2 separate regions of the Homo sapiens genome follow, and region 1 is linked to region 2. The links come from fine-mapping of genetic effects on gene expression. Tissue or cell type: whole blood. Region 2 holds a variant in brackets; the other region holds the start of a gene. All regions are shown on one strand. Distances are between the middles of the regions.

The links. PIP is the estimated chance that this variant, and not a neighbour inherited with it, causes the effect.
Region 1: APEH starts here. The variant in region 2 is fine-mapped to the expression of APEH in whole blood (TOPMed, PIP above 0.99).

What each region holds. Positions count from the first base shown.
Region 1 is chr3:49,669,516-49,677,617 of GRCh38, forward strand. APEH (acylaminoacyl-peptide hydrolase) reads left to right here and starts at 4,836. Exons shown (of 22, transcript NM_001640.4): 1 at 4,836-4,898; 2 at 4,974-5,106; 3 at 5,668-5,794; 4 at 6,179-6,272; 5 at 6,376-6,451; 6 at 6,541-6,704; 7 at 6,863-7,000; 8 at 7,094-7,185; 9 at 7,262-7,302; 10 at 7,388-7,509; 11 at 8,058-8,102. The coding sequence starts at 4,887. It overlaps BSN (bassoon presynaptic cytomatrix protein), which reads left to right. Exons shown (of 12, transcript NM_003458.4): 12 at 1-2,034. RefSeq lists a silencer at 4,521-5,130.
Region 2 is chr3:49,839,832-49,847,933 of GRCh38, forward strand. TRAIP (TRAF interacting protein) reads right to left here. Exons shown (of 15, transcript NM_005879.3): 3 at 7,694-7,777; 4 at 4,710-4,749; 5 at 3,970-4,097; 6 at 2,622-2,716; 7 at 1,995-2,108; 8 at 1,154-1,241; 9 at 453-542; 10 at 1-29. Among named protein-coding and RNA genes, the nearest start is that of TRAIP, 13 kb to the right of the region's middle. The variant T/C (reference allele first, on the strand shown) is at 4,451.

The DNA.
Region 1 (8,102 bases), 170 kb before region 2:
CAGAGGCAAGAGCAGAGCCAGGCTGTGCCCGAGGGACCCCAGCTCTTGACTGCACCTGTTTCATGCCTCTCCTCTGTGGCTAGGAGGCTCAAAGGACTGTGAGCCAGGAGATCTGGGCTGGAGCTAGGGGGTCAATGGATGCTCAGGAAGAGCTGGGCCTTTGGCACTTGTGGTGAGAACAGTTGACAGTGGTCATCTGGAACTGTTCATATAAACAGTGGCTTCAAGCTAAGTTTCTTGTGAAGTTTCTCAATAGCAAATCTTACAGAAGGTCCTGTGTGACCCTCTCTGCATCTGTCCCCAGGACCTATGCTCCCTGCTCACCCCCTTCTCCAAAGCCCAAGCGTCCCGCTGCTCATCAGCTTTTTTACCATTGAGCCAGGAGTGCGGCAGGCAGTACCTGCCTGACCCTTCAAGGCCTGACCTTCGTCCAGAGTGCTCTGGTTTGCACCATGCATTTCTCAGGGGTCCGCATTTCTCATGCTTTTCTATAAGATCTACACACCCCTTCAGAGAGGGCTCCTCGCTCACCTCTGGTAGCTATGGATGGGACAGGAAGCTGCCAACCTTTGTGTTGGACTTAACACCCTTGCCTTTCTGGGACTTGGCCTCACCCCACCCATGGAATACCTGCCTCATCCCAAAGATCAGGTATGGGCTGAATGCAGCCATCTGAGCAAGGGCTGAGGGAAGCCATCACCTAACACCTCTGGCCACCCAGGACCAGGTCTGTGTGGGGATGTGCCTTGGAGACCAAGGCAATAGTCCTTTCCACTACAGGCCAGGGGATGGGACAAGAAGTAGGGAACAGGCAGGGAAATGTTAGGAGGTCAGCCTCCAGCAGGCCTAGTCTCAGGCTCTAAAGTACTGACTTTTCAGCAAATTTCCTTTCTGGCCAAGCCCTCTGAGTTTGAAATTCTGACATCTGCCACTCCTCATCCCCCACTGTACCCACAGGATACATCATCGCCCCTCTGTGAAGGTGGCTGGAGCAGGCCTCTGGTCCATGGACTGTCCTTCCTGGCCCTTGCATGGATGCAGTTGTGACTCTGGGGACAATGCAGCCAGAAGCTGAGGGACCAGCACTTGGTGCCTTGGAAAGTAGAGAGCAACAGACACATCTCCAAATGGGCAAGGAGTCTCTAGCATGCAGCCCAGGCCTTCTCCATACCCCTCTCCCCAGCATCATGAGCAAGGGCATTGCCTCCTCTCTCTGCTCACTTCAGGGCCCAGTGCACTCACTTCACAGTGACAGCCCTCCCCTACAATCCTTGGGCAGAGCATGTGGTCTGAGGGCCCACAGTGAAAGAACAGCAGTGGTGGCAACTATGCCTTGCCTTCTGGAGCCTGTAGGGAGTTTTCCAGGCAGGTCCTTTGCCAGGACAGCATGGTCCTGCCCTGTTGTCCCGTCTGCTCTCCTCTTACCCACCCCCATGCTGTAAATACTTGTCATCATGGACTCCAACAGGGTTAGAGGGACAGGCCTAATCAACTGAAACTCCTCGGAGATGCCATCTCTGTCTCCCTGGGTGCCAGCAGCCCTGCTGCCATGTGCACTGGGGTGGCACTGGAGAGCCATGGCAGTCGTGAGATATTGTATGTGTATGCACATGATCATGTGTGTATGTGCGTGCGTGCGTGCGTGTGTGTGTGTGTGTGTGTTTCTGCCTCATTCAGTTTCTGGGGTCAAATCAGCTCCTTCTCTCCAAGTGCACTACCCTGGAGAGTGGTGGCCACTCAATACCTTTTCCTCTAGCTTTCATGTCTTGTTTTTGCTTTCCCCTTCCTCCTCCCTCTCTCCCTTTCTTTCCTTCTCTCCTTCTTTATTTGAGGGGGGAAGAGTGCTGTACAAAGTCAAACAAACAAGTTTACAGTTGTAAGTGCAATGACCCGAGTCCTCCACATGACCTTGTGAATTGTGTGCTGTCCTTCTGTGCTCTGTGAGAACTCGTGGTACTTCAGTGTCCCTCCCCCTGTATTGTGACAAGGTAATTCTGTGGTATCAGAATAAAAGGACTTGATATAAACAACCTACAGACTGTTTCTGGGATGGTTTCTCAAGTGGGAAGGCTTAGCTGAAGGAGCAAATCCCCAAATTTGCGACAATCCTGTCCATGGTTAAAGGGAAAAGGATGGACAAAGTTGCAGAAGTGCTGGCACAGCACGGGGCTGAGTCCACACCAAGCCATCCAAAGACAATGGGCCCTCCACAAAGGTGCCCAAGGGGAGGTCCCAAGCTTGGACCTGGAGCAGGCAGTCAGTGCGCAGGCTGTTGAGGGACAGCACCTCCATGGCCTTCAGGTGTGTTGGCTGCATACACAGCTTTCTGGGACCTGGTTCCAGGGAGGCAGTGAACAAGTGCTGCCCCCTGGTGCTGCCAACAAGCCCTACACCTCTCTGCCTTGCTCCGAATTTTCCAACCCCCAAACTCTCACCGGCTGCCAGACCTTAGGCCTTCCTCAGATGGTCAGGAGTACCTCCTTACCGAAGTCACCCAGAGTTGCTAGACCTTTTTTTTTTTTTTTTTTTTTTTTAACACAGATAAACAGGAATCCCAGCTTCACCTCTGGCCCTCTCCCCAGAATTAACATTTTGATGCGTGTCCTTCTTTCCTGTTTGTTGTTCCAGTCTTCATTTTAAACAGAAGCCAGAAGGTGCAATATATCCTGTTTTCTAGCTTTCTGTTTATTTCCACGTTTATTTCAGGTACTTAAATGTTCGTCTTCCAGTGCTCAACCTCCAGAGAGATACACCATTAGTTCATAGCCAGTCTACCACACACAATCTAAGGAACAGGCACTATGTTCCCAGTGTTCCTATTATAAACAATGCTTGATGAACATCCTATTTTCCAATCTTTCCACCCAAATTGGTGGCTGGGGCCACTCATTCTACTCCTGTTTCTGGCCTTGATACAGTCCTGTACATACTGACAAATGCAGTGGCGTCAGAAAGTTGGGACTCTTTTTTTTTTTTTTTCTTGAGACGGAGTTTCACTCTTGTTGCCCAGGCTGGAGTGCAGTGGCATGATCTCGGCTCACTGCAACCTCCACTTCCCAGGTTCAAGCGATTCTCCTGCCTCAGCCTCCCGAGTAGCTGGGATTACAGGCGCGTGCCACCCAGCCCGGCTAATTTTTGTATTTTTAGTAGAGACAGGGTTTCTCCATGTTGGCCAAGCTGATCCCGAACTCCTGGCCTCAGGTGATCCACCCGCCTCAGCCTCCCAAAGTGCTAGGATTATAGGCGTGAGCCACCGCGCCTGGCACTTTTTTTTTTTTTTTTTTAAGATGGACTCTGGCTGTCGCCCAGGATGGAGTGCAGTGGCGCGATCTCGGCTCACTGCAAGCTCCGCCTCCCGGGTTCACACCATTCTCCTGCCTCAGCCTCCCGAGTAACTGGGACTACAGGCGCCTGCCACCATGCCCAGCTAATTTTTTGTATTTTTAGTAGAGACAGGGTTTCACCGTGTTAGCCAGGATGGTCTCGATCTCCTGACCTCGTGATCCGCCCGCCTCGGCCTTCCAAAGTGCAGGGATTACAGGCGTGAGCCACCGCGCCCGGCCGGCCGGGACTTTTTTTTTTTTTTTTTTTTTTTTTTTTACTTAACTAGTTATCTTGAGTAAGTAATGATGCGGCTGATGGGAAAGGGGAAGCTACAGGCCAGACAAGTGGACTCTCAATCACAAGCACGCCATGGAGCAGGGAGCCAGGGCCCTGAATGTGGAAGACCAGCCAGACTCAGGTATATGGAGGGAACATCCTTACTGTCCAGCCTCTCCTGATCTCTGTTGGCACCTTAGCCCAGCCAATCCTGTACCACGTGCACAGGGAACCTGCCTGCCTAGGTTTTTTCCACAGGAAGCTCCCTGGTCCTGGGTGGAGTCTGAGCCCACCAGGCCTTTCACACCCAAGAGCTCAGGGTGAGGCCTGGGGAGGAAGGCAGGGACCCACCAGCTCACGGTCCCCAACAAGGTGCCACTGAGAAGGCTGGGTAAAGGCTGCGGGGATAGATAGCTCTTGCGGCAGGCCTGGCGACTGATAAGTCCGGGCAGCACCCTAAGAGTTGGCACCCGCCCCTCTGCCCCGCACCCCAGGGCTTTGCTTCGCGCCCTCCGCCCGGACCCTGGCCCTTCTCTTCTTCGTCTGCGTGGAACTCCCTCCAGGGCAGGGCCTGGCACTGTGTAGTGAATGTCGGCCTCGTGGTGGACCCGAAGGAACCCTACAGTCAGCCCCAGAGCCGCGGGAGATCCACGCTGCGGCCGGCTCCGCCCCGCCCAACCCTCACCCTCACGCTCACGCTCACGCTCACGCTCACGCTCACGCTCACAGGCTCCCGGCTCCACATTCCTCGCAGGGCTCCAATCCGGACCCGCCCGCCTTGCCCTTCATCCTCAAAGACTCATTGGTCCCATTCCCCTCGGGCCCCGCCCTTCGCGTGCTTGGGCCATGCCCGTCCGACCGCGCTGCTTCCGCCTTGCAGCACCCCCTCAACCCCTTCTCTCGTAGGCCCTTCTACCCTCCCCGAAGCCGGGCTCCCGGGTTCCGCTTCCACAGGGCCGCCCCCTCTCCTCCGAGATCCAACGCCTCGCCCCTCGGTAAGAGGCCCAGGACTCAGCCCACGGCCCCGCCCCCCACTTGGCTAGTCCGCCCCTGGCGAGACCCCTGCTCTCACCCACCCAGGACTTCTCGCTCCCAGGCCGGGTCCTCTCACCGTCAAGGCCCGCCCCCTGCCAACGGTCCTCACCCATTAGCCGAAGGCCCCGCCCCTCACAGATTGCCGCAGGGCAGGGGCGGAGACAGCCCGGGCCGTCCCAGGCTCCGCCCCCGGAAGCCTCACTTCCGGGCGCGAGCACGCCCCGCCTCGCCCCGGCGGCAGAGAGGAGACTATGGAACGTCAGGTGAGGGCTCGGCCCGCGGTCCCCGTGGTCCCTGCAGCCCGGGCCGGGCCTGACCCTGGTGTGTCCCCTGCGCAGGTGCTGCTGAGCGAGCCCGAGGAGGCGGCGGCTCTGTATCGGGGCCTTAGCCGCCAGCCCGCGCTGAGCGCCGCCTGCCTGGGCCCGGAGGTCACCACGCAGTACGGCGGCCAATACCGGACGGTGCACACTGGTGTGTGTGCGAAGGGGAACTGGCTGGCGACGGGGTCGCGCACTGGGGTGGGAAGGAAGGGGGTGTGGAGGGCTCGCTGCTTGACAGTGCGTAAGGGTATATAGGGAGCCGGCCTGGACTTGGAGGTTACACTCCCACAGGTCCCTGCACACAGGTGTGTGGAGGGGGGGAGGGGGCGTGCGGGGCGTTATCGAATGGCGGCCATGAGTGCACGAGATGACGGCGTAGGGGTAGAAGTCAAACCTGGGCTCAGGGCGTGGACCTTGTAGGGCTCTCCACCAACACGCCATCCCATACACATGCCAGGCTGCCCTCAAGATTCCAGGGTGGATGCTGGGGTTACTAGGGGGTTCTCTCAAAGAGGCTGTCAGCTCAGGCTCTGGAGGCCTGGACTAGGGTTGTGGCCAAGTGTTGTCCAGCCTGCAGCCAGGGTGTCAGTGTCTGGAGACAGATTGAGAGATTGGGGAAGATAGATCTAGGCCTTCCTGGGTCAGGTGGGGCTGGGGGCAGTAGCCAGGAGTAGCCAAGACAAGGTGAGCAGTCTCATGCCTCCCCTCACAGAGTGGACCCAGAGGGACCTGGAACGCATGGAGAACATTCGATTCTGCCGCCAATACCTGGTGTTCCATGACGGGGACTCAGTGGTGTTTGCAGGACCTGCAGGCAACAGTGTGGAGACCCGGGGGGAGTAAGTTTGAGGGAGGAAGCTTGTGGGCAAGGCCACAGCCGTCCGCAATGCAAGCCTTTTATGAATGCTCACCATGTGCCTAGAAGGGAGGCCAGCAGCCAGGTTCTTGCCCCCTTGGGAGCTCATTCAGTTTCTGGTGACATGGCCTGATAAGCACTGGAAGCTTGCTCCAAACTCAGCCTGGACTAGAGCCCATGGTGGCCTGGGGAGTTGCAGAGAGTAGAGTCTCTGCCTCAGGGAGGAAAGGCAAGGTGGGGCTAGAGGTGCTCCAGAAGCTGGTGTGGGGCCAGAGCCTCAAGAATCTCTCCTAAGAGGTGTGCCCAGTAGGGAGCAGGAAGGGGTTATTGCAAGATAATCCTGACCTGTGCTACCCCATGTCCACAGACTGCTGAGCAGAGAGTCTCCTTCAGGCACCATGAAAGCTGTGCTGCGCAAGGCTGGAGGCACGGGCCCTGGGGAAGAGAAGCAGTTCCTGGAGGTGAGTCTGCATGGGACCAGGTAGTGGGTGACAAGAGAGAGGCTCTGCCCCACAGATAAGGCTCTGTTAGCGGGCAAACAGCCTAATGCCCAGATGTCCTCAGGTCTGGGAGAAGAACCGGAAGCTCAAGAGCTTCAACCTGTCAGCGCTGGAGAAACATGGGCCTGTTTATGAGGATGGTGAGGCATCTGGCTGGTGAGCAGGCAGGGTGGACAGGAGGGGTAGCCGTAGCCCTGGGCCCCCCCTGATTGGCCCTCCCTGCACCCAGACTGCTTTGGCTGCCTGTCCTGGTCGCACTCGGAGACACACTTGTTGTATGTGGCAGAGAAGAAGCGCCCCAAGGCCGAGTCCTTCTTTCAGACCAAAGCCTTGGACGTCAGTGCCAGCGATGATGAGATAGCCAGGCTGAAGAAGCCAGACCAAGCCATCAAGGTGCTCGTGGTCAATCCACGAAGGCCCGGCAGGGCAGCCCTGGGGCTCAGTGTGCTCCCTTCCCATACTGTGCCTGTCAGACCTGGGGAGGCACTAGCTTTTAGGAAGCAGAGCAGGTCCTATAGACAGGCTGGGCATTGAGTATCTTGTGTTCTCAGGGGGATCAGTTTGTGTTTTATGAAGACTGGGGAGAAAACATGGTTTCCAAAAGCATCCCTGTGCTCTGCGTGCTGGATGTCGAGAGTGGCAACATCTCTGTGCTTGAGGGGGTCCCTGAGAATGTGTCCCCTGGACAGGTCAGCAGCAACAGCCTGTGTCCCCCCTGGAGTCTGGGACCCTTCTTGAGCTACCACCCCTTGCTCACTCCTGCCCTTTGATCCTGTTTACAGGCATTTTGGGCCCCTGGAGATGCTGGTGTGGTGTTTGTGGGCTGGTGGCATGAGCCCTTCCGGTTGGGCATCCGCTTTTGCACCAATCGCAGGTGAGGGAGTGGGGCAAGGCAAGGGGCCTTGCAGCCCAGCTGGCCTTGAGACTGAGTGTCTGTCTCGTGGTTCCAGGTCAGCCCTGTATTATGTGGACCTCATCGGGGGGAAGTGTGGTAAGTGGCTGATGCCCACCTGTGCTTTGCTGACACATGTTGGCCCTGCCAGCCTGCGTGATGCTCATGTTTCCATCTGGCCCAGAGCTCCTCTCGGATGACTCCCTGGCTGTCTCTTCTCCCCGGCTGAGCCCAGACCAATGTCGCATTGTCTACCTGCAGTACCCATCTCTGATCCCCCATCACCAATGCAGCCAGCTGTGCCTGGTGAGCTGGAGGTGGCAGGGATGGGAGGGTGGTCAGCAAGAAGATGGGATGGTGGATGAGAGCTGAAGGGCCAGTATCATCTCCCCATAGGCCCTCAGTAGGTGCCCTTCTGTCCTCAATGCAGCAGCGGTGTGAGTTCTGCCTGTCCTCTCAAGGAGGGCCTAGAGGTTGAGAGTGCTGCCATGGAGAGCTTTGCACTGTTGGGGCATTCCACCTTGAGAGAATGCTCGTCTGCAAGAATGCTCCTCCCCTTGGCTCTCAACTGCATGTAGCCAGGCTCTGCAAGGGGCTGGGATATAGTGGGGAGTTACACAATCCCAGACCCTCCCCAGGAAGAGCTCTGGGCCCCTGGTAAAAGTCAGAGGGACATGCCTATCTGAGGCCCCTTGGGCATCTGGTCCAGGTCACCAGAAAAGAGATACATCAGGCTTATTCCAGTTCCCCCATCTCCTGGGGCTACCTGAGGCAAAAGGGGATAGGCACAGGGCACTGTGCCCTAAGGGAACTGCCTGTCCCCTACTGGACCTGACCATTGTGTTCTCTTGCAGTATGACTGGTATACCAAGGTTACCTCAGTGGTGGTAGATGTTGTG
Region 2 (8,102 bases):
TGCAGCATCGTTAGCTTCTTTTTCAGGCTCTTGGGGAGGGAAAGAAAAGTGTGTGAGAGAAAGGCTGAGGCATCAAGTCCGGAGATAATGCAGAGGACATGAGCAGCATGCATGAAAGGCCAGCCCACTGGGAACAGAGCAAGGCCTGATACCTCATCATTAGGCTCAGGAGGCCAAGCCCCAGGTAGAGCCCCTCCTCTGATAAGGGACCTCAGGGATGTAAGTGCAGGACAGACTATGAGGGAAGACTCATGGTTCTGTCTGCCCTCTGTTGAGGAGGCCCAGGCTCCAGTCCGGACCAGGGCCAAGGGGCACACCCTGACCCAGGAGGATGCAGGGGCCCAGAACCACCACTGACTGGTGCAAGGGTCCTGGGCAGAGATAGCCCAGCCCTGCTCTGGGAGGGCACACAAACCACCCCTCATTCCTGTCAAGCCAGGGATGTCCCTCACCATGATTTCCTTGTCAGCACTCTGTAAGTCCTTCTGGGCTGACTTCAGTTCTAACTTGGCCTGATCCAATTCAGAGTAGACTGTCTGCAACTATAAGAAAGTGTAGGGAATGAAAGACAAGCCAAGTGGTAGCCTTGTGCCCTGCCCCCTCCTGCTGCTCCCCAGGGAGTGATCAAGGTAGCCCAGAAGAGACTAGAGATATGGGCAGAGATCCCAGCTCTCTGAGGCTAGGCCTCAGTCTGGCAATGCACATCCGGAGCTGCCTAGAAGCAAAGGCTGCTTCCTACATCCTGCAGCCTGTGGATGCACCATGCCAGAAGTAAAAGCAGCTGTGCTGACCGAATCAGGTTCCAGGAGCCCTTCTACTCCAGATGTGGTACAAAAATAGGCCTCTGATGCTGTCACATTTGAGGCCTGTGCTCTCCAGCCAGCTGAGAGGTACCCAGGAGCCAGGAAGAGCAGAGGGGAGCATCAGTGTCCACATGTTGGGGGATACCTCTGTGATCTGTCCACCCCTAGTGGACAAGCCACATATTCAGGCCAATGCCCAGTAAGGACTGGTAACAAATTTCTGTAAGTCCTCCAGCTGCCCCAGGGAGTCAGCTGTGCCATCAGGTCCCATGGCCTTGCTCAGGAGACCAGAGTGAACATGACAAAAGGAGAGCCACTTCTCCTTCAACCTCTGTTCACTGCTAAGTTACCTTGCTTCTGGAGGAAAACAAATCCTTCCTCAGCTTGTCAGCCACCTCCCCTGAGGCCTTCCGTGCCTCTTTTAGATTCTCGTACTCTCTGCAATGTGGCCATGGAAAGAGATGCCAGAAAAGAACACCTGCAGGTCAGACTGAGCCACAGCACTAATCTAACACAAAGCACTGCCCAACCCCTCAACTCACTCTCATTCCTACTTTGACACCTGAGCCCAACAAGTACCAGGTGGCACTGTGGAGGGTCCTGCAGAGAATGCAAGGAAGTGACTATTTCCTCCTGCCTGTCCTGCAGGCACTGGTGACTTGAGAGGGCATGCAGAAAGCCCCAGTCTCACTAGGGGGCTCCCTAAACCACCTGGTCTTAAAGGAGGCATCTTGGACCCTCTATGCCTCTCAGCTAAGTGGCCCTCCACCCTTCCTGCCAACCTTACACCCACCAGAGTGAAGAATATGAGTAGAGTTTGATCCCAGCCAGGCAGGATCATAGTGCTAATGGGGAACAGGCTCTACATATCAATCACAATGGGGCTTATAGCCCAGAGAGCTAGGTCAACTCCCTTAGAAACAGCACTTAAGATTCACACTAAATCCTCAACAATCCTATGAGGCAGGTCTACTACTATTTCCATTCAGGAAGTTGAGGGTCAAAGAGGCCAAGAAACTGGCAGCAGGCCACATAGTTGCTGAAAGGTGGAATCAGGGTTCAAACAAAGGCAGCATGGCTCCAGAGTTTGCCCCTTAGTTCCATCTGCTTTACAAGAGATGGGGAGCAATGACACGGCTGGGGCCCCATGGCCTATCTCCTGTGTTTGCTGAGAGGGGCCACAGTACGCACTTCTTGAGAGACACACAGTACACAGCCAGCTGTTCCACCGCTGACTGTCCCACACCCATGTCTCGGATCATCTCCTCCACCTCAGGGCGCTGGCTCTGGAGTAGAAGCTCAATCCTGAAAAATACACCCAGCCCACGGCATTTGCAATCTGGAGGCTGATGGGTAGGTACCCAGTGCCGCTCTGCCTTCCTTTGCTGCCGTTGCTAAGGTAACAGGCTAGGCTGCCAGGATGCTTTAGTAGGTGGGTGTGCCCAAGGAAAGGCCCTGTGGCAGAGATGAGCATAGCTCCAAGGATGCTGCTGAGAAAGAAGAGGTGCTGAAAGAGGGTCTCAAGGTCAGGGATTTCCTGGAGAGAGGTTTCTGGAAGGAAAGACCCACCAGGTCATCTGGCCACAGGCAGCAGAGACAGGGAGGAATGTGGCAAGGGCTCCCATTCCTTGGAATGGGGGAAGAGTTCATAGAGGCTAAGATCTGTGCCCACACCCAGCTGACCTGAGCCCTCCATGGCCTATGGAGATTTGAGCCTCGGACATGACCCAATCCCACTCCCTGCTGCAGTCCTAAGAACTGTACCACTTGCAGGCCCTGGGGGCAAAGGCACAGTGCAGGACCCAGCTCCAAACTCACTGCTCCATGGTCTTCATCTTGCTCCTGAGCCGGCGGGCCTCCTCTTGTGCTTGTTTGGTCTCATCCTGCTGCTGCTCTAAGTACTTCATCTGCTTCTGAAGAGCAAATACACCCATACCTGATGCTTGGAGGCCCTCAGGAGCCATTGCTAAAGTCACTAGGAAAACTCTGCTCCAGAACTCTCTGCAGCTTATGTTTTGAAAATGCTGATAACCATGTACTCCCAAACCCCAGGAGGTAAAGCTCCTGGGTCCCACTCTCGCTTGTGCTTCTTCTTCTAAAAGGCTCTAAGCCAGCTGCTTCTTCACCTCCCTGCCTGCTTCCTCCTGAAAGGTATCTTACAGTAGACACAGCCCACTGCCAGCATTTACAGGCCCACTGTGGGCTGCCAAGGTCCAGTGGTCTGGGCCTCATGGTACATGTTGTGCAGGTGGCTGAAGAAGTCCAGAGCACAAACCCAGGCCTCACCATCCAACACCCAGACCCATGGACAGTTGCCAAGAATGAATAATTGAGCCAGGGGAAGCTGGCCAGGCTGCCTTCAGCCTAAGACCACTTGTCTCTGACCTGAGAATACCATGAGAGACTCCTGCTCTGCAGCCAGGTGCCAGTTTGCTCCCTCCCACCAGCCAGACCATGTGATCCAGCCCAGCCCCCAAGCAGGAACAGAGACAATGAATATCCTGGGGCCTTGTCTGTTCACAAGGATGGCTCCCTTTCCCTTTCAAATGGCATCCAGCAAGGACTGCTCCTGCCTACAAGGCCAGAATATCAATCGTGGGTTCAGATCAATCGCCTCTCATGCCCCTTGGAGAGCAAGAGGCTCACCAACCCAGGCTGATGCAAAATTCATCTGGGTCTAAGGCTGTTCACTCTGCAGACTTTGATCTGGTTGGTCAGCTCAGCACAGCTGACTTCAAAGGCCCTTGCTCCTCCCTAGGATGCTGTTTGATCTGGCTCAGGAGAGCAGCCCAGCCAAGGACTAGAGTGCTAATGGAAGGTTCTTCAGGCTGGCCTCATCAGTAGAGTATGAACCACTTTCGGAAATATGGCCCAGCCTCACTGAGGTCTTAGTTGAGCATCCCCTCTGTGAGGTACTGGGAAGGCCTTGACTCTTCAAACTACCTAGTACAAAACCCACAAGTATAGCCAATATGGCCCTTTTCTTATGGGATGGATGGGTACAGTATGGAAGGGCAAGGGGAAGAAGTGATTTGCCTCTATTTTACAACTCCCCAAACCAAGGTGATGACTGGAGCAGAACCAGAAGATAAGCCCAGAATGGGGAGTCCAGTTCTGGGGCAATACCTCCCTATGAATTCTGTACCCATAAAACCTGAGGACCTACTTTCAGTGTGGAGCACAGCATCTCGGCCTTGCCCAAGGCCTGCTGCAGAGATACCACAGTAGCATTGCGTTCTTCCAGCGTATCCCGCAGAGTGTCGATGATGACCTGGCTGTCTCGTTTCTCCTTGTCTGGAGCAGGGGTAGAGGGCGGAGGAAAGGGAAAGGCCTGTCCATCCATCAGCAGAAGAACTTGGGCCCTTGGATTCAGTGCCTCATCCCTTAGGCAGGTGAGAAACAAGGCTCAGGCCTGAAAGCTGGGTGGCCCGCTTCTTTCTCTGGGATGTGCCAAACCAGAGAAGCTGAGCCAGAGCCTTCATTCAGGGAAAAGCCCACCTTCTGCTGCTTGAACTACTTAGGAAAATATTTTACTGCCCATTCCCTACCTGCCATGGGTCCAGTTAGTTCATCAACCCAGGACTCAAGCAGGTTCCAGCCAAACTCAGCAGCTGAGCCCTCTCCCGAAGATATTCAGTCCCATCAGG[T/C]AACCCCCTCCCATCTTGGTTCCTGGGCAAGAAGCTGCACTCAGAGACAAGAGGCTCACCTGGTCTAGGTGAACAGCTTCAGTCACCTCCCTTCCCTCTCTTTTTCTGCCCACCACAACAGCTAGCAGGACTCTTGGACATACAAAGCAGGGAAAGGCCCTGGCTCTCCCAAACGGTTTGAAACCTTCCTCCTAGGGCCCCCTTCCTCCAGCATCCAAGTCAGGGGCTTCCCAGCACCCCTCGTCTCTTGCTAACTCACCTTTCTGGGAAAGCTGGGCTCTGACATTGTCCAGTTCATTCTGAAAGGCAATACCCACAATAAGCAGCAGGAAAGCATCATAGCTGACCTCCACGTGGTCTCCCATAAGGCTGTGGGGAGCCCCAGGATTGAACAATGAGGCCTTCTAGGGCATGAATCCTGCAGTGCCTCAAGGCCAAGCTAAGCTAACAATGGAAAGATAAGCACTGCTGTAGCTCTATGTGCCCTTTTGAAAAGTAGGTAAGATGGAGGAAAACAATCTCAGGGGCAAGGCCCCAGGACAGGTAAAGAGGTAGAATAGTGGAAGGGAAGTTAAAGTAGGGCCCCTGTGATCAGTCTCCATAGCAGAAGTTTCTATCACTTCCTTGGCCTCATCGCTCTATGTTGGTCTCATTCCCTCTGGGCATCAGCTGACTCACCAGGGACACACAATAGGAATGGCCAAGGACCTTGGGCGACTACTCCTCCTCTCCACCCTGGGTCTTCCTGATTCATAGTCGACTTTCCTCCAAGCTCTGAACTGGCTCTGTGTACCACAAACCTTCCAGACCTAGTATCCAATGGAGGTAGCTATGCCAGGACAGCTTTGTACCCCTGGATGAAACCTCCCATGTGTCTAGTCTCTAACTAGACTATTGTGAGGATCAAGTGAGCCTCTCAAAGCCCCTGCAAATGTTTCACAGCCATGCCACAGAATCATTGAGAAGCTGTGGCAGAATTGAACCCAGTTCCTGTTCAGGATGCCACAGAACTCAACATCCCCATGAGCAAGAGAGGTGCCTGCTCCATAACAAAGAAATCCAAGGTTTTACAAAACTGAAACGCTTGACCAAGGGTCCATGGTGGTAGCTAGATGGAATCCAGGCAAACCTTACTGTAGATCACTTGTCTAAGATCAACAGAAGACTCAGAATTTCACATGTGACCAATAGTATGGCCCAGGCCCAGTGGGTAAACAAGCCCCTACTGTCAAACTCTCCACCTAGGACTCTGGGGGCAAGAGCTTCTGGTGGCTGGGCTGGTTAGCATAGGCTGAACAGCTGGGAGTGGAGGTGGTGGGTAAGGAAGAGCACGCAAGGGCTGCCTGAGAACAGATACCAGGACATGGCTGCTGCACCACTACCCATAGTCCCCTGACTTCTTCCACACTCCAGCAGGGGCTTCCAAGCCCTTGCTCCAAACTACCCAAGATGTTGCTACCTGTCTCACAAACCTGGCTTTGAAAGCTGGAAATAAATGAAACTGCCTTTGTTGCCTTCATCACAGGGAAGACACTACTTAAAACTGGGAGCAGTTACCATGACGATGAACATGCTTGCTCTAAGCACAAAAGCTCCATGTTCCTGAAGCAGTGAGGTTCCAAGGACATCATGACACCCTGGGGCCAGAGCCAAATGAACTCTGATCTGACAGATATCCAGCAAATTAACCCTCAGAGTCCAGGGATCATTTGTGAACCCAAATCCAACTTCCTCAAGAGTTCTCTGCCAACGCAGCCTGCTTGCACACAAAAAAAGCTAAATTTTAGATTAGGAGGGGAAGCAGTTAGACGTATAGGAGGGAAACTACCCACTTTCCCCTAATATATCCATTCCCACCTGAGCTGCAACTCTTGATTCCAAGAGCTCTGGTCTGGGGAAGGCCCAGGCATCTGACTTTATACCAAGCTCCCTAGGCAATTTTTTTTCTTTTAACTTTTTTTATTTAATAGAGATGGGGTCCCATGTTGCTCAGGCTGGTCTTGAACTCCTGGGCTCAAGTGATCTGCCCACCTTGGTCACCCAAAGTGCTGGGATTACAGGTGTGAGCCATCACGCCCAGCCTCCCCAGGCAATTTTGAGGCACAGGCAGGCTAGGGAACACTGAATCCAAAAATCTCCCGTGGCTGGGGAGTAGAAGAGTTTTCTAATCTGTCACTAACTGTCCAAGCAGCAAAGTAGGCTGTACAGGATGGCTGTAGGTTCTTTAAAAGATGAGGAGACAAGACCGCAGGAGAGAATTCAGGTTGGAATTGACCTGAAATCCCAAAGGGAGGGTTTACAGTCAAGCAGCTCCCCTCTTCCCTCACAGTGCATTTCTCTGATGACTGTGTCTCATCAGTTGTCCTCTGATTTTTGTGTCCCCACCTTGAAAACTGTACCAAGTCTCACCTCTATAACTTCATCTCCATATTCCAGGAACCCTCCACTTATGTGGAAATAGAAAGTGAACTCCCAGGCCAGGCACAGTGGCTCATGCCTGTAATCTCAGCCCTTTGGGAGGCCAAGGTGGGAGGATTGCTCGAGCCCAAGAGTTCAAGACCAGCCTGGGTAACATAGCAAGGCCCTATCTCTATAAAAATTTTTTTTTATAAATTAGGGCTGGGCACGGTGGCCCACGCCTGCAATCTCAGCACTTTGGGAGGCCGAGGTGGGTGGATCACTTCAGGTCAGGAGTTCGAGACCAGCCTGGCCAACAAGGTGAAACCCCGTCTGTACTAAAAACACAAAACTAGCCGGGTATGGTGGCACGTGCCTGTAGTCCCAGCTACTCGGGAGGCTGAAGCAGGAGAATTGTTTTAACCTAGGAGGCAGAGGTTGCAGTGAGCCAAGATCACGCCACTACACTCCAGCCTGGGTGACAGAGTGAGACTTCATCTCAAAATAAATAAATAAATAAATAAATAAATAAATAAATAAATAAAATAAAAAAATTAACCGAGCATGGTGGTGCACCCCTACAGTCCTAGCTACTAGGTAGGCTGAGGTGGGGAGATCCCTTGAACTCAGGAGTTTGAGGTTATAGTGAGCTATGATTGCACCACTGCACTCCAGTGTGGGCAACAAAGTAAGACCCTGTCTCTAAAAAAAGAAAAGAAAAGAAAAGAAAAGAAAAGAGAAAAGAGAAGAGAAGAGAAGAGAAGAGAAAAAAGAAAAGAAAAGAAAAAAGAAAAGTGAACTCGCACAAGGCTTGGAGTTCAGTAGAATCAGATAAATTCTGGGTACCTTTAAGAATTCTGCATCCAAGACATTCTCCTCCTCCTGGGCAAGATCAAAGAAGAGCTTATTGATAATGGTTCTTTTGCCAACCTGGATGGGAGAACAAGGTAAGAGTATGATTGTGTAGCTGGGTCATGCGCAAGGAGGAGAGTGTTGTACATGGGTCTGACTACCTGCCTGACATGCATGTCAGGCCTGTTCTCAGACCTAATTTTTCAAAGTACATCCTTTAGAGTCAAAAGACCTCTTTACTCCTGCAGGTACCCCAAGTTGGGGCTGCTGGTTTCGTGGTCACTGAAGTCATATTACTACAGACCTACACGGTTAAGTGCTCAAAAGATACCTGAACTCTAGGTGCGGAGTCACTGATGAAAAGACAGGGAAGGAGGCCAGCCAAATCTACCCAAGTGAAAAC